2 separate regions of the Homo sapiens genome follow, and region 2 is linked to region 1. A link means that fine-mapping ties the variant in region 1 to the expression of a gene that starts in the linked region. Tissue or cell type: thyroid. Region 1 holds a variant in brackets; the other region holds the start of a gene. All regions are shown on one strand. Distances are from middle to middle.

Region 1 (2,690 bases):
CTTGCCAGGCTGTTCTGTCAAAGTTGAGACCACTGCGATTCTCTTTGGTAAATAATCAAGGAAGAGAGAGAGTAGAGAGTGAAAGAGAGAAAGCGAGAGACCTAAGTGACCCAACGCACACTTACCTTCAGGCTTAGGAGGTATTTACAATCAGGAACTGAAATATCACAGTTGTCCTGTCTGAAAGGAATCTGTCGTGCATTAGAGAAAACAGATGGGTTAAGTGTGACAATGTCGCACTGAGCAGGAGGGTGCCAGGGAAACAAAATTAGGTGGGGCTGGCTGTATCTTGCTTGTGTAACAGAGCGCCCAGGAACCTGACTGACCTGCTTCTCAGCTGTAAGCATTAAGATATCACCTCATTCAGGCCTTTAACAACAACAACAAAAGCCCAACCCTCCAGTTTTCATAGGTTGATCGTTTTAGCTTTGGGACAAGGTATTACTCTCGTCAGTGGTAGCAAAACACGGGTCATCAATTTTTTTTTTCACCCTAAGTGAAAAAAAGGACAAAGATTTTGGCAAAGTCATCTGGTATAGCAGGAATTTCTGACATGTGCTGGGCCCCCTGCTCCTTGCAGGTGAGGAATCCAAACAAGTCATGCCCTGCACTTGTTGCTCTATGCCAGCCGCACATTCTCTGAAATCATAAACAATTTTTCTGTACTCTAGTAGATTGCCCTATTTGTGTACTTAAAGCCTAAGTAGAGAAAATGTAGTGGGGTCAGTAGTGAGGCGTCTATTCTGAGGTCCACTGAAATTGTTTTTTTAAGAAACTCCTACTTAACACAAAGTGAATTAGTAGCATATATTGGGATCCCTGAGAACGCTGTGAGGTGTTACATGAAAAATAATCATCATGACTGAGATTCGGTTTCTTGCTGACTTTCAGGAGTTTGGAGAGGAACTGGGGCCTGAGAATGGCCATGTGATCCTCACTTATCCTAGGAGCCTTCTCGATTAAGTAGTTTCCACCCTGTGTTCTCTCTGGTTTACTCTCACTTTAGAAGCTGGAGAATTTCAGAAGTGCCCAGGTAATGCTTGATTAAATACTAGAGTTGAATAACAACTTGGCATACTTCCTACACTTCCTTTCAGAGCTTATGAAAGGGAGAAGAGTGAAACTGGGATCTTCCGCACATCAGCGTTTGGGGATGGCGCCAAGGGCCGTTCAGCTCAATATGCCTGAGGTTCATACTTGGTTTCTGCTGCACAAGGAGATAGGTTTTCAACTGCTGAGCGAGAAACGAAACTTTAGCTAAAATGCAGGAGCTAGTAAGCTTCAAATGGAATGC[A/G]AAGAATCTGCCCAGTTAATTGGCCCGAGGAAAGAACAAGGTAATTCTATAGTTTTAAATTTTCTGAAGCCCAAAGGCCCCTTCAGAGTTTGATTAGAAATTAAACCAACCCCGAAAAAATATTGTCTCAAAAGATATTTAAGCTGTCTCTACTGTGGTACGAAGAAAAGCAGGTTAAATTTAATCAAACAGTTAGTTACTGAACAGTGGCTTAATAGAATTCAATGGCTTATTTTCAGATTAGCCACTTTTTAGGTAAAAATCCAACTAAATATATTTTCTGTTTGTAGTTAGAGAACTGAACATGATTGGGCAGGACTGGGTGCACCTTTTCCCTAGGCCTTTTCTGCAATATGTGTGGGAATATCATTATCCCCTTCTGCCTTAACCATAGTAATTATGGCTTATACCAGGCATAAACATTGCAATGCACTTTTGCTATAGCTCTCCGTTTTCACTGCCATAAAAGTCCCGCTAATTTCTCATGTTGCTTTTTCCTGAAGACCCTTTCTGTGGGCCCAGAATCCTATTCATCATTGCCCTCCTTACAATCATAATCAATTGATTAGACCTCACCCTAGAGATAAACCTTACCTACCCTCACTGTCTTGAGCACATCTGGAAATAAACTTATAAAATGTAAACTGTACGTAAATTTAATGCCTCAGTTGTTACTTAGCTCACTTAGTTGTTATCAGAAACCTTTGTTTACTCATGGAGTTGGAGTTAAAAAGTAATTTCTAGCCAAACAAACAAGTTTCACTGAGATACAGTCCTAGGTTCTAGGTAAGACCAATCCCACTTTAGACCTCCTTTCTCCAGAGGAACTCCACAATGAGAGATAATTACCTGCAATTTCATCAGCAAACCCAGCTGAGATGACACACTGTGCAGTGCTTGTATAATTTTTTTTGGTACTTACCCACTATGGTGCCTTTCATCTGGCACTCACCAATTGCTTTACACTCATTAATTACGTTTCACAATACATACTGGGAGGAAGAAAAACCTCTTCCTAGTCTGCAATGATAGAACCACTCACAAGTGGAGTTTCCAGAACACGAAGACACATGAATATCACTAATGGATCTGAATACAGAAGCAGACATAGCTTGGGACCACACTTCAAACTAATTGAAAACATTGTTTTGAATCCAAAAGAGTATCTTTTTGTACAAATCCTATAGCATCAAATCTTGATGCTGATGTCACATGTAGGGAATTTGCATTGATCAGATTCACTGATAGCATATTTAGTCTGATACAGGCTACAAGTGGAATTCATGTTTGTTTCCCCATAGGGACATAGGTACTTTAAGCAAATAAGAAATATTTGAATAATAGTAAAATAAATTACATTATGAATCTATTATTTGAGAGTATTTTAATGATATTC
Region 2 (2,690 bases), 240 kb before region 1:
GCATCTGTTTGTTCAAAGCTATATTCCCCTCATTCTTTTGTATCATGCACCACAGATGAATCAAACAGCATACAATAATAACTCAATATTTTTGAGGTATCGAAAGTTTGGAAATTTCTGCATATTTTTTATCTGCTTTTATTTGGATTATTCACCTGATTCTGAGTTGATTCCATAAAACTTCAAAACTGAGGAAGCAACGGACTCTCACGATGTGTCTGTTCAATAACATCTTACATCTTCCAGGAAGAACTTAGGGCTTTGAATCAGGGAGCAGAGATAGATGGAGGAAAGGAGATCCTACTGAAAAATGTGTTCAGCTAGCTTCTGGTCCTATTTTGGCCACTGCAGTTTGGTCTTTCAAAAGTTACTTCAAAGTGGGAGCTGAATGATGAGAACACACGGACACAATGGGGGAACAACACACACTGGGGCCTGTTGGAGGGGGAGGGAGAGCATTAGGAACAATAGCTAATGGCTGCTGGGCTCAATACCCGGGTGATGGGGTGATCTGTGCAGCAAACCACCATGGCATACGTTTACCTATGTAACAAACCTGCGCATCCTGCACATGTACCACGAACTTAAAATACATGGTGAAGATATAAATAAATAATAAAATAAAACTTCTCAAACTAAACAAAAAGAGTTACTTCACTTCTTTGGGTATCGGGTGCCTTCTCTTTCAAATAAGGTGTTGATTTATGTGGTCTTGAGAAATCTTTGTTGCTCTGATCTTAAGTTTCTTTTTATAATATTAGAATCATAGTTTACCTACATTACAGGGCTTTTATGAAGATTAAATCGAGCATCGTGGGTAGTGTTTTTTCAGCCCCTGTGACTAAGTAGGTTATAAATGGTCCTCAGTCATCATCATCATAAATGATTCAAGGCCTGAATGGCAGAAGAAGAAGAGGAAAACTCAAGTGAAAAGTGCTAGACATAGAACACAGCTTACCTAATAAAACATGCTACTGGCTAACTAAGCTGGGGTGGCTTTCTGCCCCCTCTACTTAAATTTAAGAAAGAAAAACAGAAACGTCTCTGCATCTGCCACTGCATACCCTCTCAGAGCACAGACCAACTTTGCCCTTCCTTAAAAGTCCCAGGGTTTACCTACCAACTTTTAGGAAATAAATAACCAGCCTCAAAGCTTGGCAAAGAGGGCATCAGTATCAGCTCTAGAGGTTTGCTCCGATTTATATCTCCTCCTCCAGTAAAGTCTTCTGCTCCCACTCCCAGCCAACCCCGCTCAACGCCCACCCCTCACTGTGGCACTGGACGCGCGGGGGATGCGGGGTTGTTCCCAGAGTAGCCGCTAAGGGGAGCCGGACGCTAGACCGCCCTCCCGCGTTCCCATGACAACGACACCGGCGGGCGCGTAGCCTGGAGAGCGAAGTGCCGGCTACAGCAGGTGTCGGATTGCAGTGCGCTCGCTGAGGCTCCGGACCTTGGAGCGTCTAGAGTCTGGCTACTGTTCCTCCGCCTCCCTCTCGGGCAGCTCCCTAAGCCGGCTGGGACGCGCAGAGTGAAAATGGTCCACCATTCAGGCTCCATTCAGTCCTTTAAACAGCAAAAAGGTCAGTTGGAATCTTGCTCCCCTCTCCCTGCGGGCGTCACTTCCCCCCTGCATGCCCTTGCAGTTGTGTAGGAGCATCCTTTGCAGGCTTATGCGACACAGAGGTGGGGAACTCTGTGAAGTTAAAAAAAAAAAAAAAATTAAATTCCTCTTCACTCTGCATCCTAGATGAGTGATTTTCTGAGCCTCCGCACAGTGCCTGGGAGTATCGGAATTCGTCATTTCAGGACTTGACTTAATGTATATCTCTGTGAAGACTGTTTCAATGCACTGCAGTAAACCCGCTTAGTAGGGATTGTCCGAATAGCTCAGTAGAGCTCTGAGGGGTGAGGACAGAAATGTTCAACAATATCTGCCGTCTTCTGTGGTTCAAATGTTGAGTAATCTTCACAAAAGTGTGTCTACTCCTTGAGACGCATTTACACAATCATAAGATAAATGAATTCTTGGGGGAGTTCCAGAGTTGGCCTGTTGCAGTTAAAGGGGCTCTGTCACTTCCTTGGGAAAATTTATTGTTTGCCCATGTCCCATGCTTGATTCTGGGTTTCAAGTTCTTGAGGTTAGGTTTCTCTTCTAGGGGCTTCGTATTATGTCTTTTAGTTTCTCCCTCAAGTTTCTTGCTGGGCATAGTGACAAGAATCTGTATGTTCAAGTTATCCTCACTCTTTGATCTTTGTTTCTTATTTGGTTTAAAAGGCTTTTTACAGAGCATTTTTATTTTGAGGCACATTCACAGTTTTTGGAGTTTTATTATCCAGAAGCATTAATTAACACAATTGCCACTTTGCTGAATTAATAATGGTAATTATGATACAGTTAACCATAGAGTGCCTTAGATGTGTGAATTCTGGAATGCTGAATTTGTTCATTCAAAGTAAATATTTACTTAAATATTCTCATCCCCACCCTCCAGATATTATTTGTATTTCTTTCATCAACAGTTGTTTTTATGTAGCTCTTTGACTTTTTTTTTTTTTTTGAGGTGGAGTCTCGCTCTGTTGCCCAGGCTGGAGTGCAGTGGCGCGATCTCGGCTCACTGCAAGCTCTGCATCCCAGGTTCATGCCATTATCCTGCCTCAGCCTCCTGAGTAGCTGGGACTACAGGCGCCCG

Alleles and levels. Positions count from the first base shown, and alleles are read on the strand shown. Sizes are in standard deviations (SD) of each study's normalised expression.
With allele A in place of G in region 1, the expression in thyroid of the gene that starts at base 1,389 in region 2 is lower (large effect, 1.9 SD a copy in GTEx).

Evidence for each region. PIP is the estimated chance that this variant, and not a neighbour inherited with it, causes the effect.
Region 2: ANO3 starts here. The variant in region 1 is fine-mapped to the expression of ANO3 in thyroid (GTEx, PIP above 0.99). The same link has a PIP of 0.9 or more in nasal epithelium.

The regions. Positions count from the first base shown.
Region 1 is chr11:26,571,916-26,574,605 of GRCh38, forward strand. All of the region lies in intron 14 of ANO3 (anoctamin 3), which reads left to right. It overlaps MUC15 (mucin 15, cell surface associated), which reads right to left and starts at 348. Exons shown (of 5, transcript NM_001135091.2): 1 at 126-348. The variant A/G (reference allele first, on the strand shown) is at 1,295.
Region 2 is chr11:26,330,742-26,333,431 of GRCh38, forward strand. ANO3 (anoctamin 3) reads left to right here and starts at 1,389. Exons shown (of 27, transcript NM_031418.4): 1 at 1,389-1,580. The coding sequence starts at 1,535. It overlaps LOC105376598 (a long non-coding RNA gene), which reads right to left and starts at 1,233. Exons shown (of 3, transcript XR_931138.3): 1 at 1,121-1,233; 2 at 779-894.